Homo sapiens: one gene and its partners. The protein of the gene in region 2 purifies or fractionates together with the protein of the main gene of each other region. This does not show direct contact. Each region holds a gene or a part of one and is shown on either strand. Other genes may lie near its edges.

Region 1 (4,077 bases), on a different chromosome or scaffold from region 2:
AATCCCAGCACTTTGGGAGGCCGAGGTGGGAGGATCACTTGAGCCCAGGAGTGTGAGACCAGCCTGGGGAACATAGTGAGACCCAGTCTCTAAAAATAAAATTGTTTTTGAAAGTTATGAAATTAAAAAAAGAACAGAATATATCATGCCCCTGCTGAAAATCTGTGACCCTTTCTAGTCTAACCTACCATTAGGATTCATTGACCTTATCTAGCCCCTGCATAAGCTCTGCTCAGCCCTGCCCCAACTTCCTGTGCCCAGGGCCTCCCTGCAGTTCCTAAGCACACTCACTCCTGCCCCAGGCCCTTTGCATCACTGCTCCCTCTGCCTAAGAACAGTCTCCTCTGGCATCTTCATCCACCAGACTTCAGCCCTTCAGTCAGATCTCAGTTCAGCTGTCACTTCCTCGGGTGGCAGCACCGTCCCCCACACCCACCCCATCCACCCTCCATCCATTCATGCTCCTGTACTTTCTCAAAAGCACTTCTGAACTTGAACATGCACTGTGCTACCCACTCTGTCCACGGCAGCCACTCAGCACGCATGGCTGTCCATCCCGCCCTTGACATGGGGTGAGTCCAAATTGGGATGCAAGTATAAAATACATTCCAGATTTCTAATACTTGCTAGCAAAAAAAACAAAAAAAAAACCTCATCAATAACACTTGAAATGATCCCATTTTTGATATATGAGGTCAAATAAAATACATTATTAAAAATAATTTCACCAATTTCTTGTTACTTGTATTAATGCAGCCACTAAAAAATTTTAAATTGCATGTGTGCCTTGCATATTTTGATTTATAGGAAAGTGCCAGCTTAGATAACAGTATTATGTCAATGCCAAATTTTCTCATTTTGATAACAGCATTATGGTTATGTAAGAAAATGTCCTCGTTTCTGAAAAACACCCACTGAGTATTTGGAGGTAAGGGGGCATACAGCCTCCAACCTACTCTCCGATGGTTCTGGAAAAAGACACTCGGCGAGAAGAGGGGGTGGGGGGCTTAACACGGCTAGTGAACCTGGGTGAAGGGGAGACGGGGGCCACTTGTATTTCTCATGCAACTTTTCTTTAAGTTTAAAATTCAGCTTTTAAAGTCAGCTGGGTACAGTAGCTCACACCTGCAATCCCAGCACTTTGGGAGGCTGAAGCAGGAAGATCCCTTGAGGCTAGGAGTTCAAGACTAGCCTGGGCAACATAGCGAGATCCCCATCTCTAAAAAATTAAATAAATAAATAAGTAAAAACTTAAAATAGTAAAAAGTGGCCACACAGAGCAAAAGCACTGTCACTCTCTGACACTCTAGTGTTTGTGCATTTGCCTGAGTTGCCCTGATAGGACACAGCCTCCTGGGGAACGGAGACTTGGCCCACCCTCTCACTACCGGGCACCTGGCACACAGTAGGGCTTCACAGGGTTTGCTGGGAGGGCAGATAAGTCAAGGTCCACATGAGTGAATTCCTAAGTAAAGGACTTTTCCAGAGTGACCAGAATGGAACACGACACAGCAAGGCCTCCAGAAAAGGGCTGTAGGAGCCACCCACTGTCTACTCTTACCCCACAACTGGGACCATGGGACACAGAGCTGAGCCTGAAGGGGCCAAGCAGAGCCAGCTGATGTCTCAGCACCCAGATGGTCATGGGGGCCACCAGCCAGACGCCAGAGGGAGCCCACCTCTCGCCTCCATTTTATGGCCCCCTGTGACTTGACATGTCCTGCCCCCTCCTCCCAGCCCAGCACCACCTGGCTGCAAACCACCACCAGCAGCCTCTCTTTGGGCTGTGTAGAGGCATTGGCAGCTGGAGTTTGGCTTTTGGTGGTGTGACCAAAGAGAATTCAAGCTGGTGCCAAGGGCTACTGAGTCAAATCCACGATGAGTCAAAATGCTTTCCAAGTGCACAGCCAACACCACAGAATTTGGCCATGAGCTACCCAGGAAACCCAGGAGGCCCCGAGTCCCAGTGATTACCGGCAGGCCTCCGGGCTGTAGAACTCCAGCGAGGACTCAGGAGTCATGAAGGGCGGCCACATTTGCCCAGAAGTTCCATTGATCATGTTGCACTGATCGGAATGCCAGAAGTCAACCTGGGGGGAAGCATCCAGACTAGACCCCTCAGTAGGGCCAAGGCCCCTTAATAAGCCCTCTCAGGTGCTGCACACCTAACTCACCCTGGTGCACGCACGGCCACTCAATTCCCAATACTGGCACGGTGGGAAGAGGGCAGGCTATGTAGACACACAGAGAGAATGCCTACCACAGCTTCCCCCTCCCAGACCCCTGAATGTGTAACTTCGCTAGGGACTCAGTTCTTTCATCTGCAAAATAGGCCTATCACCCACATTTCCAGCCTGAATCTGGAAAAGAAGTGTGGTGAGCAGGTGAGGTGAGAGGTGGGGCGCGGCTGTGCTCAGCCCTCAGAGCGGAAGTCAACAGGCACCTCCTGAAAACAATCGGCACACAGGCAAACTACTTAAAATCATAATGGTGGCCACCACCGGGCAACCCCAAAACAGAACCTGTCAGGTTAACTGACTCTGGGGAGCGAGACCCAGACTCGACAAAACCAACTGCTCACTTTCCAATCTTCTGTATGATGAGGATGTTTAAAATCACGTGCACATGTACAGTATATTGGAATATACAAGCCACAATGAATGTGAACTCCATCTATCGTGAATGGCTACTGCCAGTTGCAGATGGTGATTTTTGCCACTCTGGGCACCGGTTGGGGTACGATTTGTCCCTAGCCCTCAGGGTCTTTGCAGTAACTACCACGGGGAGTGGGGAGTGGGAAGTCACACAGTCATTTTCACACATATTGAGAAAAGGTCACGAAGGTGAAAAAAGCCAGTTGCAAAACAATGCACGTAGTATGATTTCATGATGTTCAAAGAAGAAACAATTCCGTATTTCTCTGCGTACATATAGGTGTGCACATGGGTAAAAATGGATGGGAAGAATATATCCCAAACTGATAATTGTGGGTTTCCTCTGGGGCAAGGGGTAGGGGTGGGAGGTGATACTAAGGGCACTTATCTCCCTCTCTTGTTTTATTTTGTAATGTGAATCTCTTCTCTTTTTTTTGGAGACCGAGTTTCACTCTTCTCACCCAGGCTGAAGTGAAATTGCGTGATCTCAGCTCACTGCAACCTTCACCTCCTGTGTTCAAGCGATTCTCCTGCCTCAGCTCATGAGTAGCTGGGATTACAGGCATGCAACACCACACCCAGCTAATTTTTTGTATTTTAGTAGAGACAGGGTTTTGCCATGTTGGCCTGGCTGGTCTCGAACTCCTGACCTCAGGTGATCCCCCCCACCTCGGCCTCCCAAAGTGCTGGGATTACAGGCATGAACTACCACGCCCGGCCTTCAAAACATTTTTGTAAGTAAAGAATCGAAAGGAAGAAAGCACTCAGTTCCCAGCAGATGCCAGGTGCTCAGTAAGCTCAGTAAGCAATCACTAACCCCACCTGCCCCTCTGGGTGGTCAAGCTTTAACCAGAGGTAAAATCCCTCCTCCAACTTCAAGAGTGTTCATCCTCCCAGCACCCTCTTCACGACAAAGGAAGAAGGAGCTCTCTGGTCCCTGCCACTCCCGAGCAGCCATGGCCGGGCCCACCCTCCCCTCTCCCTGGCGACAGGGGCCCTCGCCTCTCGCCCCTCACCTTGCTCAGCCCGTTCCACTTGTCCACGAGGTGGATCCTGCTGATGTTCTGGACCCCCGTGAACACCGTGAAGAGCCCAGAGTCGGAGTTGTTGAGCTACAGACACAGCAGGGAACAGCATCGTAAGGCTTAGGCCTGCCATTGAGCCGGCCTGGTCTGAACATTCTGGGCTGAGCCCTCCTCCCCCTCCACCAGAAGGACAGGGCCCCCAGCATCTGGTTCACTGCCAAATGCCCAGTGTCTGGGGACCGAGAGGAGGCTTGGGAGCTTTCTAGGAGGAATGGTCCCGGGTTCTGTGGCTGCAGTGTTCCACCCTCCCTTCCTAACTCCAGGAGAGTCTGGCTTTCCTCCCAGGTAAATGGCAGATCACCCCCACCACACCCTACTCCAGCATAAAATAAAGCATG
Region 2 (4,077 bases):
CCCCAACCTTGGGCTCTAAAAGTTTTTCAACAAAATAGCAGTTTCCACACCCCAGTGACTGCACAAGGTGATCTGTTGGCATGTGAAAGGAAAATAGTGAAGCTTCTATTTATGTTTATTTTATTTAAAACAGTAAATTAAGCCCTAGAAATATTTACAACTCAGATTGATGAAACCACCCATGTATAATATTCAGATAACTACATGTCATATACAGTATCTGAGATACCCTGAAAAACAGTTCCAAGTTTCAGACTACTGCAATGTACGGCAGTTCACATGCTACAAGATGCCATCAGTGTGTGGTTAATTTTACAAACACAAGTAGTTAATGCTAAATGCTCAAAAATACGTTGTAGTAAATTCAGGCATAACCACAAACATTTTTTGTATCACCCAAAGGTTATTGGTTTCCTAATGGCAAAGTGCTTAAAAGACTTTTTGAACTTAAACGTGTTGCACACTTTCCTTTTGTAGGATTTCTCTGGCTGCTATGCTAGGAACAAATTAAACAGAGGCAAGGGCAAATGTAGTGAGACTAGCTAAGAGATCATTACAGTCATTCATCTAGGCAAGAGAGCATGGTGTCTCTGACCAAGGTGCTAGCTCTGTAGATGGTGATACTTGGTTGGAAAATAGAGCCAACAGAAGTTCCTGACATGGATATGGGGTAGGGAATGAGAAGAAACAAAGATGACTCCAGTATTTTAGGCCTGCATAATTGGAAAGATAAAGTTGTTATTCACTAAAATGGATAAGATGTAAGAGGAATAAATGGGGAGGGGAACAATGATGAGTTTGGTTGTGGACATATTAGTTTGTGATGCTTATTATAAATCCAAGTAAGTGTGTCAAGCAGGCTGAAATTTAAGGAGCTCTGGTGATATACATTTAAGAGTCTTAAGCTCATAGTTGATGTTTTAAGCTGTGAGATTGTATGAGGCCATCATGTTAGTGGGTGTAGATGGAGAGGAACACTGGGGCGTTGTGATGTTTAGAGGTCGGAGAATGAGAAAGAACAAGCAAGGGACAATAGAAAGGAAAAGCTGAGTCTGAAAGGAAACTAGGAGAGTCTGATGTTTGGAAGCCAAGAAAAGAAAGTATTTCATGAAGGACGAGTGATCAGCTGGTGTCAAATGCTGTTGATAGATCAAGTAAGAAGAGTACAGTGAATTGACTGATAGATTGAGCAACATGGTAGTCACTGGAGTTCTTGACAAAATTAGTTTCTGTGATATGTGAAGAGGGCAGAAGCTTAGTTAAAATAAATTTAAGGGTAAATGGGACAAGAGAAGTTGGAGGAATTTTGCTGTAGGGAGAGCAGAAAAAAATGAGTGGAGTTTGGATGAGGATGAGAGATCAAAGAGGTTTTTTGTTGTTGTTGTTGTTGTTGTTGTTGTTACGTTTTAATGTGAGAGAAATGACAACACGTTTTTCTATTTCCATTTGATGGAAATGTTTCTGTAAAATGGATGAGGCATAATATGTAAGAGCGAGGAGAGAACTGTTGCAGCAATGTCCCTGAGTAGGCAAGAGAGGATAAGATTTAGTTCATAGATGGCTTGGATAGATGCATGGACAATTTATCCATAGTGACAAGACAGAATAACAGTATACCTGGACACAAATGCCAATGAGTTGTTGATATTGGAACTTCTTTCCTCCGTACTTCTATTTTCTCTTAAAATATGGAGGCAACGTTATCAGTGGAGAGTGAGAATGGGGAAGAGTTATTAGATGTTTGAAGAGAAGCTAAAGGTATGAAATCATCCAGTAGAGGAGAGTGAATGGACTGGGGAAACATGGGCTGTTTCCAGAGCAACAATGAAATCCACTTGAAGGCAGTGGCTGTGAATTTAAAGTAAGACCTTTCAAAAAATTTTATGTTTTTCTTCAGATATATTCAACAGTGAAAGAGACAGAGCAGTTGGATTTAATCAGCATTGGAGGTTTTCCATAGTCGAGCTTTTGTCATTAGAGTATAATGAAGATAGAGAGAAGCAAGTGAGTGAGTTTATGCGAGGGAGGTGTTAAAGCTATAGATCTTGGAATTTAGTTGTGGAAGGAAGGAAAGAGAGGCATCCATCATTGAATGATGGATTGAAAATTAAGTGGTATGACATGATAAGAATATCCAAAGATGTGTTCTTCCATTTTAATCTATATTTGTTTGTCGGGTAATTTTTCAGTCATGATGGTCAAAATCATGAAACAAGGTAAATTAACATATCAAACTTCAAATTGCTGTATCACATAGTGTTAAGCTCAGATTAAAAAATAAAATAAATGCATTCACCACGTTATTAAAATATTTTACTTATTTTAGTAATGTTTATGACATATTAATGATTATAGAAAATATAACATTTTGGTGAAAGCAAAATGGTTTTGCATTGTGAGAGTTACATTGAATATATTATTTGGCTCACCCTTATAAATATATATTTTGTGTATCTCTTTAGTGTACATATTATTAGTACTTGTATATAGTATAATAATTAGCATACAAATGTTGGGAATTATACTGATAATATGTTATTGAAAGGGAGGTGCAATTAAAAAGTCTGAAAGCCACTATTCTAGGAAATAAATTTTTTGATTCCCTACACTTGTTTTTTTTTGTTGTTGTTGTTGTTGTTGTTGTTTTTTGAGACAGGGTCTCATTCCGTTGCCCAGGCTGGAGTGCAGTGGTGTTATCTCAGTTCACTACAGCCTCATCCTCCTGGACTCAACCAATTCTCCCACGTCAGCCCCCTGAGTAGCTGGGACTACAGGTGCATGCCACCAAGCCCAGCTATTTTTTTTGTATTTTTTTGTAGAGACAGGGTTTTGCCATGTTGCCCAGGCTGGTCTCAAACTCTTGACCTCAAGCAATCTACCCGCCTCAGCCTCCCAAAGTGCTGGGATTATAGGCGTGAGCCACTGTGCCTGGCCTCTTGCAATTATTTCATCCTCATTTTGGTGTTTCCTGGAGGAGATGTTGAAATTCAATTTAGTTCAACCCATGATAGGGACGTGACAAAGACTCCCTTAACCCCAATTTCCTCATCTATAAAATGGGAGAAATAATAGCACCTAGCTTGTTGAAGTTGTTGGGGTTAAATGAGGTCGTTTTTAATAAGGGCTTTGCCTAGATATCCTGCCTGGACCTGTTCAATAAATATTAGCTGTTTGGGTGATGATGGTGATTGTAATGAAGAATTGAACTACAATTTAAGCATCCATATTTCCAACATTGTACAGCATTGTAAGCATGAGAAACAAATGTAATTTTTGGTCCTTGCTTCTCAAGAAGTTTATAATCTTTCTAGAAAGACATGATTACACACCCAAAGCAATTTGGTAACAATCTAAATATGAATGAGTGCCAAAATACGTGCCACAGATAGTATCTGCACCATCTACTAGCATGTATGAGATGTGCTCAGAGAAACCTAAGCTATAGACAACCTAAGTCCAAACTAATTTCCAGAGTCAGAAATTCCGTATAATATACTGCAGGCTGCTTTATGTCTATTTAGCGCTACAGAGACCATCACTGTGATACTCTCTAATTATTGCCACCACTAAAAATCCATCTAATTGCAAAATCATAAATTTGGCTCTGAGATATAGTGTTTGATTGAGAGAGTGATATAGGTAGGCAAAGACTATCCATATTGTTAAATGGTCTTGTTAAATTTTTGCCCATTATTATCTCATTAATAGTAATGGGGCAAATATTAATCACTCCCCTCTACTGGGAGCTACTTTATGTCAGATACTCTACTGTCTCATTAATCCTTAGCACAACTCTACAAAAATTAGGTTGCTCATTTTGCAGATGAGGAAATGAGGATGAGAGGGATTAAGTAACTAGCCTAAGGTCATGCAGCCAATAAAAGGCAAGAATGAGATCTACACCCAGCCTGTCTGGGTCAACACTCTCACCTCTACCACTCTGTGGGGTAAGTTTCTATTTATAATTCTGCTGATGTTTGGAAGTAGTAAATACCCACTTTTAAAGACACATATGGGTTCGTTATTTTTGCTTAGAAGGATCAGTTGCTTTTGTAACCTCTTCTTGATTTAAGGCTA
Region 3 (4,077 bases), on a different chromosome or scaffold from region 2:
GGCCTGAGAGCTAAGTGTTTGTTATTCAGCTGGAGGCTGTAGCTGAATTAGTCTGCAGGGGCTTCCGTAATATAATACCACACACTAGGGAGCTTAAACAACAGAAGTTTATTTTCTTACAGTTCAGGAAGCTGGAAGTCCAAGGTCAAGGTGCAGCAGGGTTGGTGTCCTCTGCGGCCTCTCTCCTTGGCCTGTGGACGGCCACCCTCTGCAGGTTGTCCCCTGTGCATTCATCCCCCGGTATCCCCTGTCTTCTTATGAGGACACGAGTCCTATTGGATTAGGGCCCCACCCTAATGACCTCATTTTAATTTAATCTCCCCTTGAGGACCTCCAAATAGTCACACTGGGGACTAGGGCTTCAACATACGGATCTAGGGACACCATTTGCCCTCAGAATTGGCAGTGTGCTCGCTTACTTATCCTGAAACCTTGTAAATGTGACAGTCTTTCATGATTCCACCACATAGGACCAGTCTATATGGAGGTGCCCATCTGGAGTGTGCCTGGGGCCTCCTTTCCATGCCAGTGTCCCCAGAAGAGTCCTGGCCATTCACCCAGGGAAACTCCACCTCCTTTTGCCAGATGGAGGGAATATGCTTGGGGCATATGCACCCATAAAGAAGATGTGGGAAGCCCCTGGGCCATAACACCCTGGCCCCAGCCCTGTCCTGAGACGACAGCCTCTGTGGCTCCGTGCGGGAGCAGAGGGCAGCCGAACCTTGGCTGTGGCTCCTAGCTCCCTGCCGTGTGACCTCACTTCTGTGTGGCAAGGCTGAAACATTAACATTCATCTCTCTTGTTCTCTTGTAGGCAACCTTTCTTTATATGTTACAAGTTAAATATTTGCTCAACCAGGTAATACTGACTGTTCTCTTCCTTTGGGAGGCTAATGGGAGTTTGTACCTTTCTGGGAATGGGGGCCCTGAAGATACTCCAGGACCAGGGACCCCAGGGTGGAGGGAGCTCACTGCTGGGAGCCACTGAAAGATATTTTTTCAGTGTTGTGCACACAGAACTTGGATGTCAAGAGGTTTGTTAAGTGATGTCAAGGAAAGAACATATTATATTTGGCTCTGGAAAACTCTTATCCAATTCCCACTTGGAAATATTGTCATTGGCAGGGTGGGCTCAGAGCCGCAGTGTTCCTTGGCTCTGCATTTTAACCAGCGTCCTGGAAAGAAGGGTGCATGCCCATTTGCTCCTAAGACAGAGCGCAGGCTGGGGGCAGCTCGTCTGGCAGAGAGGGAACCAAACTGTCTGCTCTGTTCTGTCGGAATGGCCCCACTTTTCTCATTGAGGATGTAAGAGCTCAAACTCTAATGACACCTAACGTCAGCCAGAACTCCTCCTCTGTGATTAAACAGTCAGGGCCAAAGGCCATGGCTTGGTAGGGGTGGATTTATGAAATCAGCATATGTGGGACTCTCTACATTCTTCCAGATAAGTCCAGGTAAACAGGGGTACTCGGCAATGGATCCCGGCCACACTGGCGGGCTCTCCAGGCATGTGCAACAGGAAGGGCCAGGAGGGGAGGAGGAAGAAAGGAAGTTTCCCACCTATGCAGTGTTCTTAAAGTTAAGATATTCCTCTATTAGAACAAAATTTTTAAAGTAGATATGGGGTCTTGCTATGTTGCCCAGGCTGGTTTCAAACTTCTGGCCTCAAGCAATCCTCCTGCCTCAGTCTCCAAAAGTGCTGGACTTACAGGTGTGAGCCACTGCATCCGGCCAGGATATTACTCTATCAACAAAACAAGAATATTTAGAATCCCGATTAGCATAGAATGACATATCAGAAATAGGTGTAGACTAGAGAGAAGGAAACCCACACATTTCATCCGGCTTTGGGCTGTCTCCTTTTGATCTAGACCCTTGCTAAGGCAGCATGGATGCCTTAGCACCCTGCAAGGCCTTCTCCTGGACTCAGTCCCCCAACCACTGTGGTGGCCCTAACCTCAGGGTCTGATGTGACCTGCTGAGGACAATGAGTGTGAAAGTCTTCTTTCCTGTTCTCTGGGGCACAGGGAAAGGCATGGAAGTAGGAGCCACGAGCTGAGAGGGGTTGGGAGCTTTGAACTTGGTTACAGAGGACACGTGGAGTTTCCAAGGTTGGGAAGGAAGGCAGGGGATCCTAGACAGAGGTGCAGCAGAGCCTGTTCCTAGGGGCTGGGGCCCGCAGAGTCTCTTTACGCCACTGCGGTGGGAGGGGATGCAGTGAGATGATGGCATCGAGAGGCGGGCTGGCCCAGGGTCAGCGTGCGCAGGGCCTTGTGTTCTCTGCTGGGGCATTTAGTTTTGGGAAATTAACTAATTGGGAGAGGAAGAGGGGAGAGTTATGGACATGATCCAAACAAATAATGGTGAAGGTCTGTGATGAAGAGTTTGCGTTGTGGGAGCAGTGGGAGATACGATGATGGGTGGGTTCTGTAGAAATGGCAGGGGTTGTTGGGCCCCCAGGGTGGAAGGAGTTTCTGTCCTGGGGCCCTTCCCTAGGAAGACAGGGCAACCATTAGCTGAGTGTAGAACCAAAGAGAAGCAGCTGGGAGTTTGGAGAAAGTGAATGCCCTCGGAGAGGGTGGAGGGTGGGAACAGAGCCAGATGGTATCGGGGGAAGGGAGACTTTCAAGTAGGAGAGTCAAGAGGGCTTTGGAGGAGAAGGTGACTCCACTGGACATGGAGACGCATGCGTGTTGCAGGCTTGGCCACCTCTTCTCGTTCTCCCACGAGCCTGCTCCTCTGCCTTCCATTCCATCGCAATGGGTGGAATTCCGTGGCCTCAGCCATTTTTGCTCCCAGTAACCTGTCCTTTTTGTCCCTGTCACATCCTCGACTCCATCTTTCCTTCCCTCCCACATCTGGTCAGTCACCTGGTCCTATAGCTTCTGCCTCCTCCCAATCCTCCATGCCACCACCTGAATTCATTTCTTTCTTCCTTTTTTTTTTTTTTTTTTGAGATGGAGTCTCTGTTGCCCAGGCTAGAGTGCAGTGACGTGACCTCGGCTCACTGCAACCTCCACCTCCGAGGTTCAAGCGATTCTCCTGCCTCAGCCTCCCAAGTAGCTGGGACTACAGGCGCGTGCCACCACGCCCAGCTAGTTTTTGTATTTTTAGTAGAGATGGGGTTTTACCATGTTGGCCAGGCTAGTCTCAAACTCCTGACCTCAGGTGATCCACTCGCCTTGGCCTCCCAAAGTGCTGGGATTACAGGCGTGACCCACCGTGCCCAGCCCTGAATTCATTTCTTGCCATTTGTCCTCTGTGTCATTTCAGAGGACCTTAACCTGTCTCCATCCACTGCCATCTGCCTGAAAAGTAAATCTGATCACTAATTCCCTTGCTACAAACTAACCAGGGCCTCCCCATAAATATGTGGCCTACACAAGTTGTCGGCCAAGACCATTGTCCTGGCCCCATCAGCCTGAGACCACCAGAGACAGGACTGTAGGCCAGTGGGTTTGCAGTTGTGTTTATTGGCCTGTCGCAGTGAGAGAGACTAGAGAGGCTGTGGGATGCCTCAGCAAAGGAAGAAGAGTTATTATAAAGGTTTGAAGAAGGGTGGGGTTCAGGTGACATTTAAGCGAAATCATGGTTTGATAGGCGCTGAGCAGATCTGTGAGTGAGGGGCCCAACATCAGGCCTGGGCTGTGACGTGGACCTGGTGCTCCTCCTTTGGAAACTCAAGGCTAAGAAGGATGTTGAGGGTGGACAGATGTAAAATGCCACATCCAGGAGCTCCCACGAAGCTCTGTGCCTGGGTTGGAAATTGAGGCTACTTTTTTGTGTTAACATGATTTTGAGCCTCCACGCGAGAGTGGGGTGTTTTCTTTTTACTGAAATGATTTCAAACAGCAATGTTTCTGAACAGTCTGATTTTAGACAACAAAGTTTCTCAGTGAGTCAGAAAGCACTCGTCATTCCACTAGGGGAGTAATGACACTTTATGGGGACAGCGTGACCTTGGGAGAAAGGAGGTTTCCTTTTACGTTTGCACTGACTTTATCTGCGTCTGCTATTCTATCCGGATGCGGGGCAGGACAGAGTTTTACTTCCTTGGTCTGATGTAATTTTACTTTCA
Region 4 (3,209 bases), on a different chromosome or scaffold from region 2:
CACTCTGGGAGATGGAGGTGGGAGGATCACTTGAACTCAGGAGTTCAAGACCAGCCTGGGTGACATACTGAGACCCTATGTCTCTATTTATTTAAAAAGAACAAATAGGCTGGGCGCGGTGGCTCATGCCTGTAATCCCAGCACTTTTTTGGGAAGCCAAGGCAGATCGCTTGAGGTCGGGAGTTCAAGACCCGCCTGGGCAACATGGTAAAACCCATCTCTACTAAAAATACAAAAATTAGCCGGGCATTGTGGCATGCACCTGTAATCCCAGCTACTTGGGAGGCTGAGACAGGAGAATCACTTGAACCCGGGAGGCGGAGGCTGCAGTGAGCTGAGATCGCACCACCGGACTGTAGCCTGGGCAACAGAGTGAGACTCTGTCTTAAAAAATAAATAAGTAAATAAATAAAAAAAATGAGGCAGACACATGGGCTGAGGGCGAGAGGTAGCAGCAGGTGGACGGGCCATGAGAACTTGTAGTGGCCAGAGGTCGGGGCGGGAGGTGAGAGGCAGCCAAGAGATCAGAGGCTTTGCTGGGCTGCAGCTCTTGCCTTGAGCCCAGTAGGCGGGCGGGGGCGGTGGAATGTGCACCTGGAAAGGCCAGCAGCTGTCACCCAGGAGGACGGATGGGGCAGTGCAAAACCCCCTGCTGAGCAAAAAATCCCAGCAGAGGCTGCAGGCAGGGAGATAGCTGGGAGAGGGCGTGGCCCAGAAGGCAGGGAGAAGAAAGGAGTGTCCGTAGCCTGGGGTCAGTCCTGTGATAAGGAAGGGGATGCGCTTCCTGGAAGTTGGGTCATCTTGGCAGAACCATTTGGTGGAAGGGGATGGATGTCGATCTTGGGGATGACAGAAGAGCCAAGGAAGGGAGACAGCCAAGTCTAGGAGACTTTTTTTTTTTTTTTTTTTTTTTGAGACAGAGTCTCACTCTGTCGCTAGGCTGGAGTGCAGTCACTTGATCTCGGCTCACTGCAACCTCTGTCTCCGTGGTTCAAGCGATTCTCCTGCCTCAGCCTCCGGAGTAGCTGGGATTACAGGTGCCCGCCACCACACCCGGCTAATTTTTGTATTTTTGTATTTTGTATTTTTAGTAGAGATGGGGTTTCACCATGTTGGTCAGGCTGGTCTCGATCTTCTGACCTCATGATCCACCCGCCTCGGCCTCCCAAAGTGCTGGGATTACAGGTGTGAGCCACCGCACCCAGCCCTCTGGGAGACTTTTTAGAGCTTGGCTGTGAGTGGAGGGAGAGAATTAGCAACTAGGAACTGGAAATTAGCACTGGGTTGAGGGGCAGCTACTGCCTGTTTGTGGGGTTACTTTGCCTCTGGGAAGACTCGAGCACATCCACCTGCTGAGAAGAGGGGCCGAGAGGGGAAAGACCCAGGAGAAGGGCAGGAGGTGATGGAGGGAAGCCTGGGGAGAGCGAGAAGGGCTAGTGGGGGATGGAGGGTGCAGAGATGAGAGTGAGGAGTGCTCCCGGCACAGTGCTCCTGGCATAGTGCTCCCCATAGAGCAGGAGTCAGGCTGTCTTCTCTGCAGTGTTGCAGGTGGGGCCCGAGGTGGGAGGAGACAGGGTAGAGGGTTTCGGGGAGAGGATGTGGAGAGGCGAGTGCTGGGAACCAGATGGCGAGCTGAGTGGGGACACATCCGCAGCCTGGTGGGTTGGCAGTGGAGGCTGAAGCTGGCCTGCTTGGGGAGCACTGTGCCGGGAGCATTCTGTAGAGGGAGAAGCATGGCTGTCCCAGAAGTTCTTTGTGGCCTTGGGGCAAATTGCCTAACCATGCTGAGCCTCTGTCTGTTTGGCTTGAGTGTGAACAAGAGCCCATGTGTCTGGGGCAGGTGCTGAGAAAGTGACCGTGACTTTGCTGTCACCTCTTGGAGTATCTCTGGCAGAGAAGGGCAAGATGATCTCAGTTGGTGGGTGTGGAGGCTGGACATGAAGGGGATTGGCAAAAAAGTGGTGTAATTGGCGGGTGGCCTGGGGACTCAGCCAGCTCTGATGAGATCTGGGACTGGAGAGCGTGGGGGCCTCGGTGAGGGACAAGGGGGGTCGTGGTGGGAAGAAACGCCCCGGGAGGCTGAGTACTTGGGGTCAGCCCACAGTCAGAGCTCTGAGTTTCTGTTCTGGTTTGGGAGGTCGTCCTAGATGTGGCCAGGCGTGTGGGTCTCTGAAGTGGAACCTAGTACTGCAGGTTCTGGAGGGGAGGTGGCAGGGAGCTGGGGGGTAGGTGGTGGCCATCGCACAGGGGAGCAATCGGGGACAGGGGGACGGCCCTCAGCAGGGAGGGAGAGCCGGGTTCTCTTGGTGCCCTGAGGTGGGGGAGTTTCAGACAAGACTCTGGAGATGGGGGGGAACACTGTTTCCTCCGGGGGTCAGGATTCCGGAGCAGGCGGCCAGGAAGGCTGGGCATGGCAGGGAGTGGGTCTGCAGCCTCCAAGGTCAGAACCCGATGCCAAGGCCCTGCGGAAAGCAGCGGGTGAGGGGGTGGGGTGGTGGCCCAGGCTCTGGCCTGGCAGGCTTGGCTGAGTACCGGTGGCTTGTCTGTCACTCGGGCTTCTCCTCACCCCGCCACCCCCTTCCCTAGATTGTACCTGAGCCTGGTTCTGGGGAACGTCAACGTCACGCTCCTGAGCAAGCAGGCTAAGTAATCAGGCCGAGCCTCCACCCCCCAACCTCCACCCCTCCACCCCTAGCCCCCTACCCCCCTCCCCCCCTCAACCTCCACCCCTCCACCCAGCCTTCCCCCGGAACCCGGCCTTCCCCTCCACCCCCCAACCCGGCCTTCCCCTCCACCCCCCACCCCACCCGGCCTTCCCCTCCACCCCCCACCCCACCCGGCCTTCCCCTCCACCCCCCCACCCGGCCTTCCCCTCCACACACCCACCCGGCCTTCCCCTCCACACACCCACCCGGCCTTCCCCTCCACACACCCACCCGGCCTTCCCCTCCACACCCCCTCCCCGCCTTCCCCTCCACACCCCCTCCCCGCCTTCCCCTCCACCCCCCCACCCGGCCTTCCCCTCCAGCCCCCCACCCGGCCTTCTTCCCCTCCAGCCCCCCACCTGGCCTTCCCCTCCAGCCCCCCACCCGGCCTTCCCCTCCACCCCTCCACCCGGCTTTCCCCCCAACCTGGTTTTCCCCTCCACCCCCCACCCCACCTGGCCTTCCCCTCCACCCCCCAACCCGGCCTTCTCCTCCATCCGACTA
Region 5 (4,077 bases), on a different chromosome or scaffold from region 2:
CTTTAATGAAACAGTTCTGCTCCCAAGTATAAGCAATAATAGAGAAAACAGAGAGACAAACAAACAGACATTATCTAGATTTAACACAAGACAGACTTATGGAAGAGAAACTAAACAGAAATGTAAAATGGTAAGGAGGGCTGAAGCTACGGGCCTACTCAATTCTGGTTCTGTAATCAGGCAGTGACAGCCAAGATGCAGGCTTCAATGAAGTAACAAAAACGAAAAGTGCTCCATTAAAATGGAACCAGTTCAATGCTTGAGGCTGGGAATGAGGATGTGCCACCTTGACTCCTACAAAGAGATTATAAAATTTGCTGATGACAGTTTAATATTTTGAGAAAGTTACAGAACTAAGAGAGGGAGAGGACTGTGATAAGGCCTCCAGCCCAGGAAATGAAACAACTGACCGACTTGATGTGTGATATCCTTAATCTAACTCGCTGTTTTTGTGTGTGTGTGTGTGTTTTGTTTTTTTTTTTTTTGAGACAGAGTCTCACTCTGTCACCCAAGCTGGAGTTCAGTGGTGCAATCACGGCTCACTGCAACCTCAAACTCCTAGGCTCAAGCGATCCCTCCCACCTCAGCTTCCCAAGTAGCTGGGACTACAGGCGTGCACCACCATGCCTGCCTTTTTTTTTTTTTTTCTTTTTGATATTTTTTGTAGAAATGGGTTCTCGCTACATCTTGAGAGGCTGGTTTCCAACTCCTGGGCTCAAGCAATCCTCCTGCCTTGGCCTCCCAAAGAGCTAAGATTACAGGTGTGAGCCACCATGCCCAGTCTGACCCACTGTTTTTACACCTGATTCTTACCTAAGTGGTAGGTAGAGGGAACAGGGAGAGGCAACAGGACACCTATTAGATAGAGAGAGGGGAACATGGAAGAGGGAAAGGAGAGAAAACAGAACTCCAAAATTACTACTCAAAATGACCATCTCAAAAATGCCACACACATGAAGAAATAAAAACACTAAGAAACAAAGCCAACAAAAATCAGCAAGTATAAAACCCAATTTAAAAAAACTAATTTTATATAACAGCTCAGGAATGATTTTAGATATGTTAAAAATTATCAGAGAGAGAAATGAAATAATATCTGTGAAATAAAAATTGAAATTAAATAAAAACATTTAAATATTTTAAAAATTCCATTAGAAATCTTAGAAAAGGTGGCCACAGGCCAGGCGTGGTGGCTCATGTCTGCAATCCCAGCACTTTGGGAGGCTGAGGTGGGTGGATCACAATGTCAGGAGTTCAAGACCAGCCTGGCCAAGATGGTGAAATACTGTCTCTACTAAAAATACAAAAATTAGCCACGCGTGGTGGTGGGCGCCTGTAATCTCAGCTCCTCGGGTGGCTGAGGCAGAGAATTGCTTGAACCTGGGAAGCGGACAGAGGTTGAGGTGAGCCGAGATAGCACCACTGCACTCCGGCCTGGGCGACAGAGTGAGACTCCGTCTCAAAAAAAAAAAAAAAAAAGAAAAAAGAAAAGGTGGCCACAGCCACTGGAACCGTTTTTCAACTACCGGTCAAGAAGAAAATTAGCTGCTGTACACTAAGGAGCAGAATGGAAATACAGAACTTGGGAATTCTATTTTAAGTAATGGTTGTCGAGGTAATTAGATTAACCCTCCCAATGAACTAGAAGGGAAGGAAATAGGAAGGAATTCTGTTTAAAGCATTAGAGAACGAGGCACCGAAGAATTCTGGAGACAAAATCAAGGAGGAAAAAAAAAACCCAGAGAGCCAGATCTTTTCAGGCGTTTCTCTAGAAACCAGGGCCAATTCCAGAAGAGATGGTTGACAGGATGAGAAGCTGGGCAGAGATTTTAAGACTCCCTGGGCTAAGGAGCCATAAACTGGAGTTCAGAACCCTAAAGAGGAAAGCCATAGGGAACCCTCACACTTCAGATTGGGACCTTAAAAAGGGAAATATGCTAGTAGAAAGGGTGAAAAGGTTAACAGGAAATGGACTACCTGGCAGGAATGAAAACCAAGTTTTAAATCAGCTCAATCCTTTATTGGATTAAAGTGATTCTAGATTGTTAGTGGCCTAACATTCTGGTCAAAAGGAAAAGTCTTTAGAGAAAGATATCCTTAGGCCTCAAATCACATTAAACTGTCTATATACAATGTGCAGCTCTCATTAAAAAATAAACGGGCTTGGCTGGGCATGGTGGCTCACTCCTATAATCCCAGCACTTTGGGAGGCTGAGGCAGGTGGGTCACTTGAATCCAAGAGTTTGAGACCAGCCTGTCCAGCATGGCGAAACCCTGTCTCTACTAAAAATACAAAAATTAGCCAGGTGTGGTGGCGAATGCCTGTAATCCCAGCTACTCAGGTGGCTGAAGCACAAGAATCACTCGAACCTGGGTGACAGGGGTTGTAGTGAGCCGAGATTGTACCACTGCACTCCAGCCTGGGCAACAGAGCAAGACTCTGTCTTAATAATAATAATAATAATGATAATAATAATAATAATGATAGGGCTTACATAACAAAATTATGGGTGGATCATGAGGTCAGGAGTTCAAGACCAGCCTGGCCAAGATGGTGAAACCCCGTCTCTATTAAAAACTATAAAAAATTAGCTGGGTGCAGTGGCAGGTGCCTGTAATCCCAGCTACGGGGGAGGCTCAGGCAGGAGAATTGCTTGAACCTGGGTGGCAGAGGTTGCAATGAGCCGAGATCACGCCACTGCACTCCAGCCTGGGCAACAGAGTGAGACTGTCTCAAAAACAAAACAAACAAACAAAAAAAGAAACTTCAGATAATACAAAGAGCTCCAAAGGGGATCTAGATAATAGAGTTATTATAGACTTATTAGGCAGAAACTTTAAACAACTGTGTTGAATATATTCAAATAAAAAAGGCAAGATTGGGATTTTCCAAAAGAAAATAGGAACTATAATATAAAGCAGGACCAAATGAAGATTCTACAACTAAAAACAACACCAAACCAAACCTGAAATTATGAACTCAATGACTGTTTTTTTTGTTTTTGTTTTTGTTCTTAGATGGAGTCTCACTCTGTTGCCCAGGCTGGACTGCAGTGGCGTGATCTCGGCTCACTGCAAGCTCAGCCTCCTGGGTTCATACCATTCTCCGGCCTCAGCCTCCTGAGTAGCTGGGACTACAGGCGCCCACCACCACGCCCAGCTAATTTTTTGTATTTTCAGTAGAGACGGGGCTTCACCATGTTAGCCAGGATGGTCTCGATCTCCTGACCTCGTGATCCACGCGCCTCGGCCTCCCAAAGTGCTGGGATTACAGGCATGAGCCACTGCACCCGGCCTCAATGACTGGTTTAATACCAGATTAGACACAGTGAAAGAAAAATATCAGTGAACTAGGAAAGAGATGGGAAGAAAATACCCAGAATGAAGCATAAGAAACAGAAGGATAAATACAGAAAAGAGAGTAAGATACAGGGAGTATAGTGACATATGGGGTATATATGCAAGTTGAGTTAAAGGAGTAAAGTGACAATAGATAGAAACCATATTTAAAGAAATAATGGCTTAAAGTTTTCTGGAATTAATAAGAGGCATCAAAGTCAGATTCAAGTATCCCTGTGAATTCCACCCAGGATAATACAAAGAAGACCACACTGAGGCCTAACAAAGCAAACTGCTGAAAACTAAAACAGAGAAAAAATATTGAAAGCAACCAGATCAGGGGTGGGGTAAGATTCTTTTTAAAGGAGCAAAGAATAAGACAGAGATGGTGAGGGAGTGGTGGCTCATGCCTGTAATCCCAGCACTTTGGGAGACCTAGGTGGGAAGATCACTTGAGCCCAGGAATTTAAGATCGGCCTTGGCAACATGGTAAAAACCCATCTCTACAAAAAATACAAAAATTAGCTGGGCGTTGTGGCACTTACCTGTGGTCCCAGCCACTCGGGAGGCTGAGGTGGGAGGACTGCTTGAGCCCTGGGAGATGGAAGCTGCAGTGAGGTGTGATTGCGTCACCACACTCCAGCCTGGTGACAGAGTGAAACTTATTTCAAAACAAACAAACAAACAAACAAACAAAACAAAAGACAGAGATGGCCAAAAAGTCAAGAGAGCTGACAA
Region 6 (4,077 bases), on a different chromosome or scaffold from region 2:
GAGCTGCTTCTCCCTCTGTGAATGCCTTAGCCTCCCCGGGCTGCAGAAGGTGAGAGTGCAGCACCCCCAGTCTTCCTCTCAGGGAAAAAGACAGACTGCTTAGTTAGTCCCTGGGGTGCAAGGGCTGAACACATTTCATTTTGTTTTGTTTTGTTTTGTTTTGTTTTGAGACAGTCTCGCTCTGTCACCCAGGCTGGAGTGCAATGGCTGCGATCTTGGCTCACTGCAACCTCTGCCTCCCGGGTTCAAGCGATTCTCCTGCTTCAGTCTCCCAAGTAGCTGGGATCACAGGCGCACACCACCATGCCCGGCTAATTTTTTTTTTTTTTTTTTTTTTTTGAGTAGAGGGGGGTTTTACCATGTTGGCCAGGCTGGTCTTGAACTCATGATCTCAGGTGATAGGCCCGCCTCGGCTTCCCAGAGTGCTGGGATTACAGGCATGAGCCACTGCGCCCGGCCTAAACACATTTCTTATTTATCCAGGAAGCCACAGCAAATCTCTTGGTGAGCAGCAGAGGGGGCGGCTGCACTGCACAGCGTGCTCCCCAGGCCTGGAAAGGGACCTTGATTCTCACTTATGAACCCCAGGAGGGGCCCAGCAGGCCAGGGCAGCCTGGGGGTGTCTGGTCGGGGTGACCCAGAGGTCAGGCTGCGGTTCAAACTCCCCCTAGGGACGTCCACATAGCATTAACTCTATCCTCAGAAAGCCTGAGCTCCCGTCGCCTATAAAGGACCCCATCGGTAGGGCTGGCCGTAGAGCGCCCCCAACTGGACCAATCAGAGGCAGAAGATGGAAAGCCCGGGCCAATAGGCAAATTGCTCAGTGCCCTTGGATTGAAAATGAGCCAATCAGAGCATGGGCTGTTTCCGGCCCATCAGCTGTGTCTGATCCAGCCGCAGCCTGGGCCCAAGCCTGCCTGGGACTGGCTGCAGCGTGCAGAGGGCATCAAGATGCCCGGGGCTGCGTCCAGCAAGGGAACAAGGGGCCTCTGTGTGGCTATCTGGGAGGGGCAGCAGTCCCCGGGGACGTGCACAAGCCCTTGTCTGTTCCCAAACTAGGACGGATGTCCCTCCGCCCTGGGGGAGCAGCTGCCTCTATCCAGCCAGGGGCCAGGATGCCCCTTGGAGGGGGCGGCCAGGGACTGAGATGGCTGGGTGACTCCGGAAACCTCCATCACTCCTGGGCTCAGGAGAACTGGCCTAACCAGACTTTTCTGGAACGGTGCACACAGTCCTTGCCAGACGTGTTTCTAGGGACCTGAGGAGGACTCCCCCTACTCTCCCCCCTCCCTCCCATTTAGCTAAGGCTGGAACTTCCTCTCCCTTCATGAAAGGCATACACTGCACTGGCGCCTCTGACAACCCCTAACCCTACCCCCAAGCTGGGGGAAGGCCATGGTGTCTGCCTCTCATCCTCTCTGCCGAGGAGCGCCTCTCCCCGCCCCCTCCCACCACGGCTCAGTTTTCCTTGGTGGGTGGCGATGGGGGGGGATGGGAGGGGGTAGAGGGAGGGATGGAAGAGGGTGGAGGGGAGGGATGGGAGGGGGTTGGGGGGGTGACTCAGGTTTTCATGGAACAAATGCCTTACCCCCTCCCGGCGGGGCTGCACACCCCTTCACGGCTCACATGACTTCAGCAAAGCTGCCCCATCCTCCCAGCCAGGACCTCCCAGATGGGGTCTCTCCCATCCTGACTCCCCCTACATCCCGCCTTCCTCACACCGGATGTGACTGCAGAGTGAGGACTCCACCCTGTTTGTTCCAGGGGCCTCACATCTGGATTTCATCCTGGCTGGGGAGGGGGTGCCAGCGCCCTGCCCATCCCGGCAGGACCTTCTGTCCCAGGGCAGAGCTAGATGGTGCTGATGAGAACAGGCTGTTGGAGATCTCGTCTGGTTGGCTTACATCCCTTCCCTTCCCAAAGGACTGGAGGAAAGAGGGGAGCTAATAACATTTGGCAGTATTTGTTGAGTGCTTACTATGAGCTAAACGTGCCTCATGCGTCATTTAAAAGGATTTTCCCATCACCCCCATGAAGTGGGCTTTCTTCTCTCTATTGCACAGATAAGGAGGTTCAGGCTGAGACAGCGTCTAGGGACTTGCCCAGTGTTTCAGAGGTGGAATGGGAGCAAATTCTGGATTGCCTTCAAGGTCTGTGTCCTTGAAGATGGTGTGACCTCTGGGATGTTTGAATCTCAGGGCCGCCCTGGTGTCTCCCCAAGACCTTATCTTGGGAGCACCCGTGGCCTCAAGGCTTAGACCCAGCCTGAAATCCAGCGTTAGTGGGTGGTAATGAATGAGCAGGGCACGGAGCTATCAGTGGTGAGACTCTCCCTGACCCAGGTCAGCATGAGGGCGCAGGCGCCTGTGTGTTCCAGAAAAGAGACAAACCCTCCAGGACCTGCCTAGGGCTTGCTCTCTGGGTAGGTGGGCAAGGTTTCTGGAAGTCCACATTATATTTTTCATGCCATTTGGGGGAGCTTCTTTCCCTTTGAAAGCGTGTAGCTACTCAGGAGACTGAGGCAGGAGGATCACTTGAGCCCAGGAGTAGAGACAACTGTGAGCTATGATCATGCCACTGCACTCCAGCCTGGGTGACAGAGCAAGACCCTATCTCTAGAAAATAATAATGAAAATTAAAAGAGGCAAGATGTCATGGTTCATACCTGTAATCTCATTGCTTTGAGAGGCCGAGGAGAATTGCTTGAAGCCAGGAGTTCAGGACCAGCCTGGACAACACAGTGAGACCCAATCTCTAAAAAACAAAAAAACTAGCCAGGCGGCTGGGCCCGGTGGCTCACACTGGTAATCCCAGCGCTTTGAGAGGCCGAGGCAGGCGGATCATGAGGTCAGAAGTTCGAGACCATGCTGGCCAACATGGTGAAACCCTGTCTCTACTAAAAATAAAAAAAAAATTAGCTGGGCCTGGTGGCAGGTGCCCGTAATCCCAGCTACTCAGGAAGCTGAGGCAGGAGAATCACTTGAACCCAGGAGGAGGAGGTTGCAGTGAGCCAAGACCGTGCCGCAGCACTCCAGCCTTGGCAACAGAGGGAGACTCCATCTCAAAAAAAAAAAAAAAAAAAAAAAATTAGCCAGGCGTGGTGGCATGTGCTTGTAGCTGAAGCTGAGGTGGGAGGCTGAGGTGGGAGGATCACTTGAGCCCAGGAGTTCAAGGCTGCAGGGAGCTATGATTGCGCCACTGCACTCCAGCCTGAATGACAGAGCAAGACCTTGTCTTTAAAATATAGATAAATAAAATAAATAAGAAAGAGCGTAGCCTAGGGCTTATAGAGGCCGCAGAGCCAGTCTCTCTGGCCCTGCCGCTGGTTAAATTTGAGACTTTAGGAAAGTGAATTAATCTCTCTGGGTTTCCCGTCTGTAAGTGGGGATGATGATGATTCTGAATTCATGTGGCCCTTCCTCGAAGAGTAACAGAGCAGGAAATTGAATCTCAGCCCATCCGAGGCCAGAGCCCAGGTAGCAGCCACAGCTCTGACCTATTGTCTGTCTGTCTGTCTGTCTTCTCTGCAGTTCTGAAAGCCCCATGGCCCCAGCAGGCCTCTGAGCCCCACCATGGGCAGCTTGTACTCGGAGTACCTGAACCCCAACAAGGTCCAGGAACACTATAATTATACCAAGGAGACGCTGGAAACGCAGGAGACGACCTCCCGCCAGGTGGCCTCGGCCTTCATCGTCATCCTCTGTTGCGCCATTGTGGTGGAAAACCTTCTGGTGCTCATTGCGGTGGCCCGAAACAGCAAGTTCCACTCGGCAATGTACCTGTTTCTGGGCAACCTGGCCGCCTCCGATCTACTGGCAGGCGTGGCCTTCGTAGCCAATACCTTGCTCTCTGGCTCTGTCACGCTGAGGCTGACGCCTGTGCAGTGGTTTGCCCGGGAGGGCTCTGCCTTCATCACGCTCTCGGCCTCTGTCTTCAGCCTCCTGGCCATCGCCATTGAGCGCCACGTGGCCATTGCCAAGGTCAAGCTGTATGGCAGCGACAAGAGCTGCCGCATGCTTCTGCTCATCGGGGCCTCGTGGCTCATCTCGCTGGTCCTCGGTGGCCTGCCCATCCTTG
Region 7 (4,077 bases), on a different chromosome or scaffold from region 2:
CTCACTGCCACCACTGCCTCCCGGGTTCAAGCGATTCTCCTGCCTCAGCCTCCCGAGTAGCTGGGATTACAGGTGGACACCACCAAGCCTTGCTAATTTTTGGATTTTTAATACAGACAGGGTTTTACCATGTTGGCCAGGCTGGTCTCGAACTCCTGACCTCAAGTGATCCGCCTGCCTCAGCCTCCCAAAGCTGGGATCACAAGCGTGAGCCACCATGCCCAGCCTTTTTTTTTTTTTTTTTTTTTTTTTTTTTAGATAGGGTCTTGCTCTGTTGCCCAGGCTGGAGTGCAGTGGCATGATCACAGCTCACTGCAGCCTCTACCTCCTAGGGTTCAACTCATCCTCTTGCTTCAGCTTTCAGAGTAACTGGGACTATAGGTGTGTGCCACCACACCTGGCTAGTTTTTAACCTTTTTGTAGAGATGGGGGTCTTACTATGTTGCCGAGGCTGGTCTTGAACTTCTGGCCTCAAGCAATTCTCCTGTCTCAACCTCCCAAAGTGCCGGGATTACAGTTGTGAGCCACTGTGCCTGGCCTGATTTAAATACAGTTTAATTGTGAGTCTTGGTGATTCCAGCCTGTGAAGGACAGAGTTAGGACTAACTGGCAGGGCATATTATCATGTGGCTCCCAGCTGTGCTGGAGAAGGGGCTGTCAGTCCATCCGCCTGTCTCTGGATAGGATGGATGTCAGCAGTCCTGCTAATGTCAGTCTTGTGGGCAACAGCCATCCCACTCTTGATTTTATTTTTATGTTTTTATTTTTTATTTTTTGGTTTTTTTTTTTTTTTTTTTTGAGACAGACTCTTGCTCTGTCACCCAGGCTGGAATGCAGTAGCATTTAACTGACATGTCAGTTAAAATCAAGAGTGAAGGCCAATCTCAGCACTTTGGGAGGCCAACGCGGGCAGATCACCTGAGGTCGGGAGTTGGAGACCAGCCTGGCCAGCATGGTGAAACCCGGTCTCTACTAAAAATACAAAAAATTAGCCAGGCATGGTGGCAGGCACCTGTGATCCCAGCTACTCGGGAAGCTGAGGCAGGAGAATCGCTTGAACCTGGGAGGCAGAGGCTGCAGTGAGCCAAGATCGTGCCACTGCACTCCAGTCTGGGCAACAGAGCGAGACTCCATCTCAAAAAAAAAAAAAAAAAAAGGCAGCAAAGGCTAGGCACAGTGGCTCACGCCTGTAATCCCAGCACTTTGGGAGGCCAAGGTGGGCAGATCACTTGAGGTTAGGAGTTTGAGACCAGCCTGGCCAGCATGGCAAAACTCCGTCTCTGCTAAAAATACAAAAATTAGCCGGGCACGGTGGCCATATGCCTGTAATCCCAGCTACTCAGAGATTGAGGCAGGAGACTTGCTTGAGCCCAGGAAACGGAGGTTGCAGTGAGCCGAGATCACACCACTGCACTCCAGCCTGGGCAACAGAGCAAGACTCTGTCTCAAAGAAAACCCAAAACAAAACAAAAACAAACAAAAAGCCTGTCCCTGGCTGATGCTGATAAGACATGTTACTTAGACTCTGGTTGTATTGGGAAGGTGCTGCAGCCAGGACACCTGTGTCTGGCCGGGACATCTGTCAATGGGACCCCGGTTCTGGAAGGAGATGGTCAGACCCCCATGTTTAGCTGGGGTGCTGACAACTGAGGGTGTCACACTCACCTGGTGCTGCCGGTACAGCAGGGGGATGGTGAATAGACCAATCACTCCTGTGGGTACAGAGATGGGGGCGTCAGGGTGTTCCCAAGAGATGAACAGTTCCATCTGGAGCCCTGTCCCCCACCAGACTCCAAGTCCCCATTTGCCCCTTACGGCCTTCCCAGCTCACCCAGAATGAGAAGAGTCAAACCATTGAAGATGGCACCCACGAAGGTCAAGATGTAGAAGAGGAGGGCCAGCTGGGGGTGAAGGTCAGGGTCAGCAGAGCCCACCGGGAATTCCCTCTCATGCTGTGAATTTACCCAACAGTCGCCCTCCCACCCCCTAGCCATGCAGAGGTGAATGGGGGAACCCAGGAGGGGCTGAGAGCTCCAGGCCACCTTGAGGGAATCCACGAGGTCTTCTACCAGGAAGAAGTGCCGCAGCTGCGTGGCCGCCGAGACCACGCGGGAGGTGATCTGGTGGGACAAACGTTCCGTCTGCTCCCGAGTCAGGGTGAGGTCCACATCCAGGTAGGCCCTGCGGGGACAAAGGAGTGTGGGGCGACTCAGTGGGTGACCAGCTCAGACTGGTGCAGGGGCAGCTGAAACAAGGGAGAGGAATGGCGGTTGGGAGAAGACCAGAGTTAGGACTGAGGGGCAGCTCAGAGGAATCATATGTAGAGGGCTGGGGTCAGGGTCAGGGTCAGGGGAAGGGATCGAGGATGAAGGGTACCAGGTTAGGATCAGAGATTAGGATTGAAGGGTAGGTTAGGGGATCGGGATGAAAAATGATCAAGATGAGTCGGGGTCCGGGTGGGAGTCGGTGCCTGATTTGAGGTCGTGGGTCATGCTTTAGGGTCAGGACAGGGGCTCAGGTCAGGGGCCGGGGGTTCTCACTGGAAAGGGTTGGCTCCATCCCCCCGGTGCACGGCCTGCAGCACTTTGCGGTAAACCCTGAGAGAGATGGTGCCGCAGAGCAGCAACAGAGCCAAGTGCGCGGCCACGGACACGATGCTAAAGTGCAGGAGGCAGAGGAGGGAGACCATCAGGCCTGTGAAGACCACTCCTGACGTCCTCGTGTCCTTCCAGTACAGCAGGTCCGCCACTGTGGAGGGGTGGGGGGCATCAGGGCTTGTACCTGACCTGGCTGGTCTCCTCACCTCCCTTTCCCTGTCCTACAGCTGAAAATGACTTCTCGACACACCTGTTTGAGCATAACCTGATTTCCTTTTTTTTTTTTTTTTTTTGAGAGACAGGGTCTCACTCTGTCACCCAGGCTGGAGGCAGTGGTGCAATCATAGCTCACTGCAGCCTCGATCTCCTGGGCTCAAGTGATCCTCCCACGTCAGCCTCCTCAGTAGCTGGGACTACAGGTGTGCACCACCACTCAGCTAATTTTTGTTTTTGTTTCTGTTTTTAGAGGTAGGTGGCTCTCACTGTGTTGCCCAGGCTAGTCTCGAACTCCTGGCCTCAAGTTATCCTCCTGCATCAGCCCTCCAAAGTGCTGGGATTATACGTGTGAGGCACAGCACACAGCCCGATTTGCAATTTTTTAAAAATTATTTTATTTTATTTTTATTTTTTTCTCTATTGCCCAGGCTGGAGTGCAGTGGCGCAATCACGACTCACTGCAACCTCCGCCTCCCTGGTTCAAGCGATTCTCCTGCCTCAGCCTTCTAAGTAGCTGGGATTACAGGCATGTGCCACCATTCCCGGCTAATTTTTGTATTTTTAGTAGAGACGGGGTTTCACCATGTTGGTCAGGCTGGTCTCGAACTCCTGACCTCGTGGTCCACCCGCCTTGGCCTCCCAAAGTGCTGGGATTACAGGCATGTGCTACCGCGCCTGGCCTTAATTCATTATTTTAAAGAGCTGCATAGTATTCTGTGTTGTGGCTGTGCTCCTGTGCTCTCATTCATTTTATTTAACCATGTACCTATTGCTGGGTCATTCAGTTTGTTTCCTAACCCCTTCACCGCAAGCAGGGCTGCAAGCAACATCCTCCAACAGATATTCTCACCTCCTGGAGTGACTATTTCTGAGACAGATTCCCAGGGTGGAATTGCTGGGTGGACTGGTTGTGTGTCTGTGTGTGTGTGTGTGTGTGTGTGTGTGTGTGTGTTTTGTTTTTGTTTTTATTTTTTTTGAGACGGATTCTCGCTCTATTGCCTAGGCTGGAGTGCAATGGCACAATCTTGGCTCACTGCAACCTCCGCTTCCTGGGTTCAAGCAATTCTCCTGCCTCAGCCTCCTGAGTAGCTGAGATTACAGGAGGGCTCCACCACACCCGGCTAATTTTTTATATTTTGGTAGAGATGGGGTTTCACCATGTTGGCCAGGCTGGTCTCGAACTCCTGACCTCAAGTAATCCTCCCACCTCGGCCTCCCAAAGTGTTGGGATTACAAGCGTGAGACACCACGCCTGACCTTGGTT

The links.
Region 1: the proteins of TNFSF18 (region 2) and SCARB1 purify together in Homo sapiens (affinity purification with mass spectrometry; one large-scale study listed by BioGRID and IntAct). This does not show direct contact.
Region 3: the proteins of TNFSF18 (region 2) and SLC47A1 purify together in Homo sapiens (affinity purification with mass spectrometry; one large-scale study listed by BioGRID and IntAct). This does not show direct contact.
Region 4: the proteins of TNFSF18 (region 2) and TMEM120A purify together in Homo sapiens (affinity purification with mass spectrometry; one large-scale study listed by BioGRID and IntAct). This does not show direct contact.
Region 5: the proteins of TNFSF18 (region 2) and PEX13 purify together in Homo sapiens (affinity purification with mass spectrometry; one large-scale study listed by BioGRID and IntAct). This does not show direct contact.
Region 6: the proteins of TNFSF18 (region 2) and S1PR2 purify together in Homo sapiens (affinity purification with mass spectrometry; one large-scale study listed by BioGRID and IntAct). This does not show direct contact.
Region 7: the proteins of TNFSF18 (region 2) and RTN2 purify together in Homo sapiens (affinity purification with mass spectrometry; one large-scale study listed by BioGRID and IntAct). This does not show direct contact.

Annotation. Positions count from the first base shown.
Region 1 is NC_000012.12:124,808,200-124,812,276, forward strand, and holds part of SCARB1 (scavenger receptor class B member 1), read right to left. Parts: intron 3,767-4,077; coding exon 3,671-3,766; intron 2,091-3,670; coding exon 1,975-2,090; intron 1-1,974. UniProt on the Homo sapiens protein: Receptor for different ligands such as phospholipids, cholesterol ester, lipoproteins, phosphatidylserine and apoptotic cells. Receptor for HDL, mediating selective uptake of cholesteryl ether and HDL-dependent cholesterol efflux.
Region 2 is NC_000001.11:173,044,262-173,048,338, forward strand, and holds part of TNFSF18 (tumor necrosis factor ligand superfamily member 18), read right to left. Parts: intron 1-4,077. UniProt on the Homo sapiens protein: Cytokine that binds to TNFRSF18/AITR/GITR. Regulates T-cell responses. Can function as costimulator and lower the threshold for T-cell activation and T-cell proliferation. Important for interactions between activated T-lymphocytes and endothelial cells.
Region 3 is NC_000017.11:19,550,611-19,554,687, forward strand, and holds part of SLC47A1 (multidrug and toxin extrusion protein 1), read left to right. Parts: intron 1-813; coding exon 814-858; intron 859-4,077.
Region 4 is NC_000007.14:75,988,602-75,991,810, reverse strand, and holds part of TMEM120A (transmembrane protein 120A), read left to right. Parts: intron 1-2,586; coding exon 2,587-2,646; intron 2,647-3,209. UniProt on the Homo sapiens protein: Multifunctional protein involved in mechanosensation, and plays an essential role in lipid metabolism and adipocyte differentiation. May function as a potential ion channel involved in sensing mechanical stimuli.
Region 5 is NC_000002.12:61,023,747-61,027,823, reverse strand, and holds part of PEX13 (peroxisome biogenesis factor 13), read right to left. Parts: intron 1-4,077. UniProt on the Homo sapiens protein: Component of the PEX13-PEX14 docking complex, a translocon channel that specifically mediates the import of peroxisomal cargo proteins bound to PEX5 receptor.
Region 6 is NC_000019.10:10,224,401-10,228,477, reverse strand, and holds part of S1PR2 (sphingosine 1-phosphate receptor 2), read left to right. Parts: intron 1-3,530; 5' UTR 3,531-3,572; coding exon 3,573-4,077. UniProt on the Homo sapiens protein: Receptor for the lysosphingolipid sphingosine 1-phosphate (S1P). S1P is a bioactive lysophospholipid that elicits diverse physiological effects on most types of cells and tissues.
Region 7 is NC_000019.10:45,486,806-45,490,882, forward strand, and holds part of RTN2 (reticulon-2), read right to left. Parts: intron 2,749-4,077; coding exon 2,541-2,748; intron 2,182-2,540; coding exon 2,043-2,181; intron 1,902-2,042; coding exon 1,832-1,901; intron 1,713-1,831; coding exon 1,666-1,712; intron 1-1,665. UniProt on the Homo sapiens protein: Inhibits amyloid precursor protein processing, probably by blocking BACE1 activity. Enhances trafficking of the glutamate transporter SLC1A1/EAAC1 from the endoplasmic reticulum to the cell surface.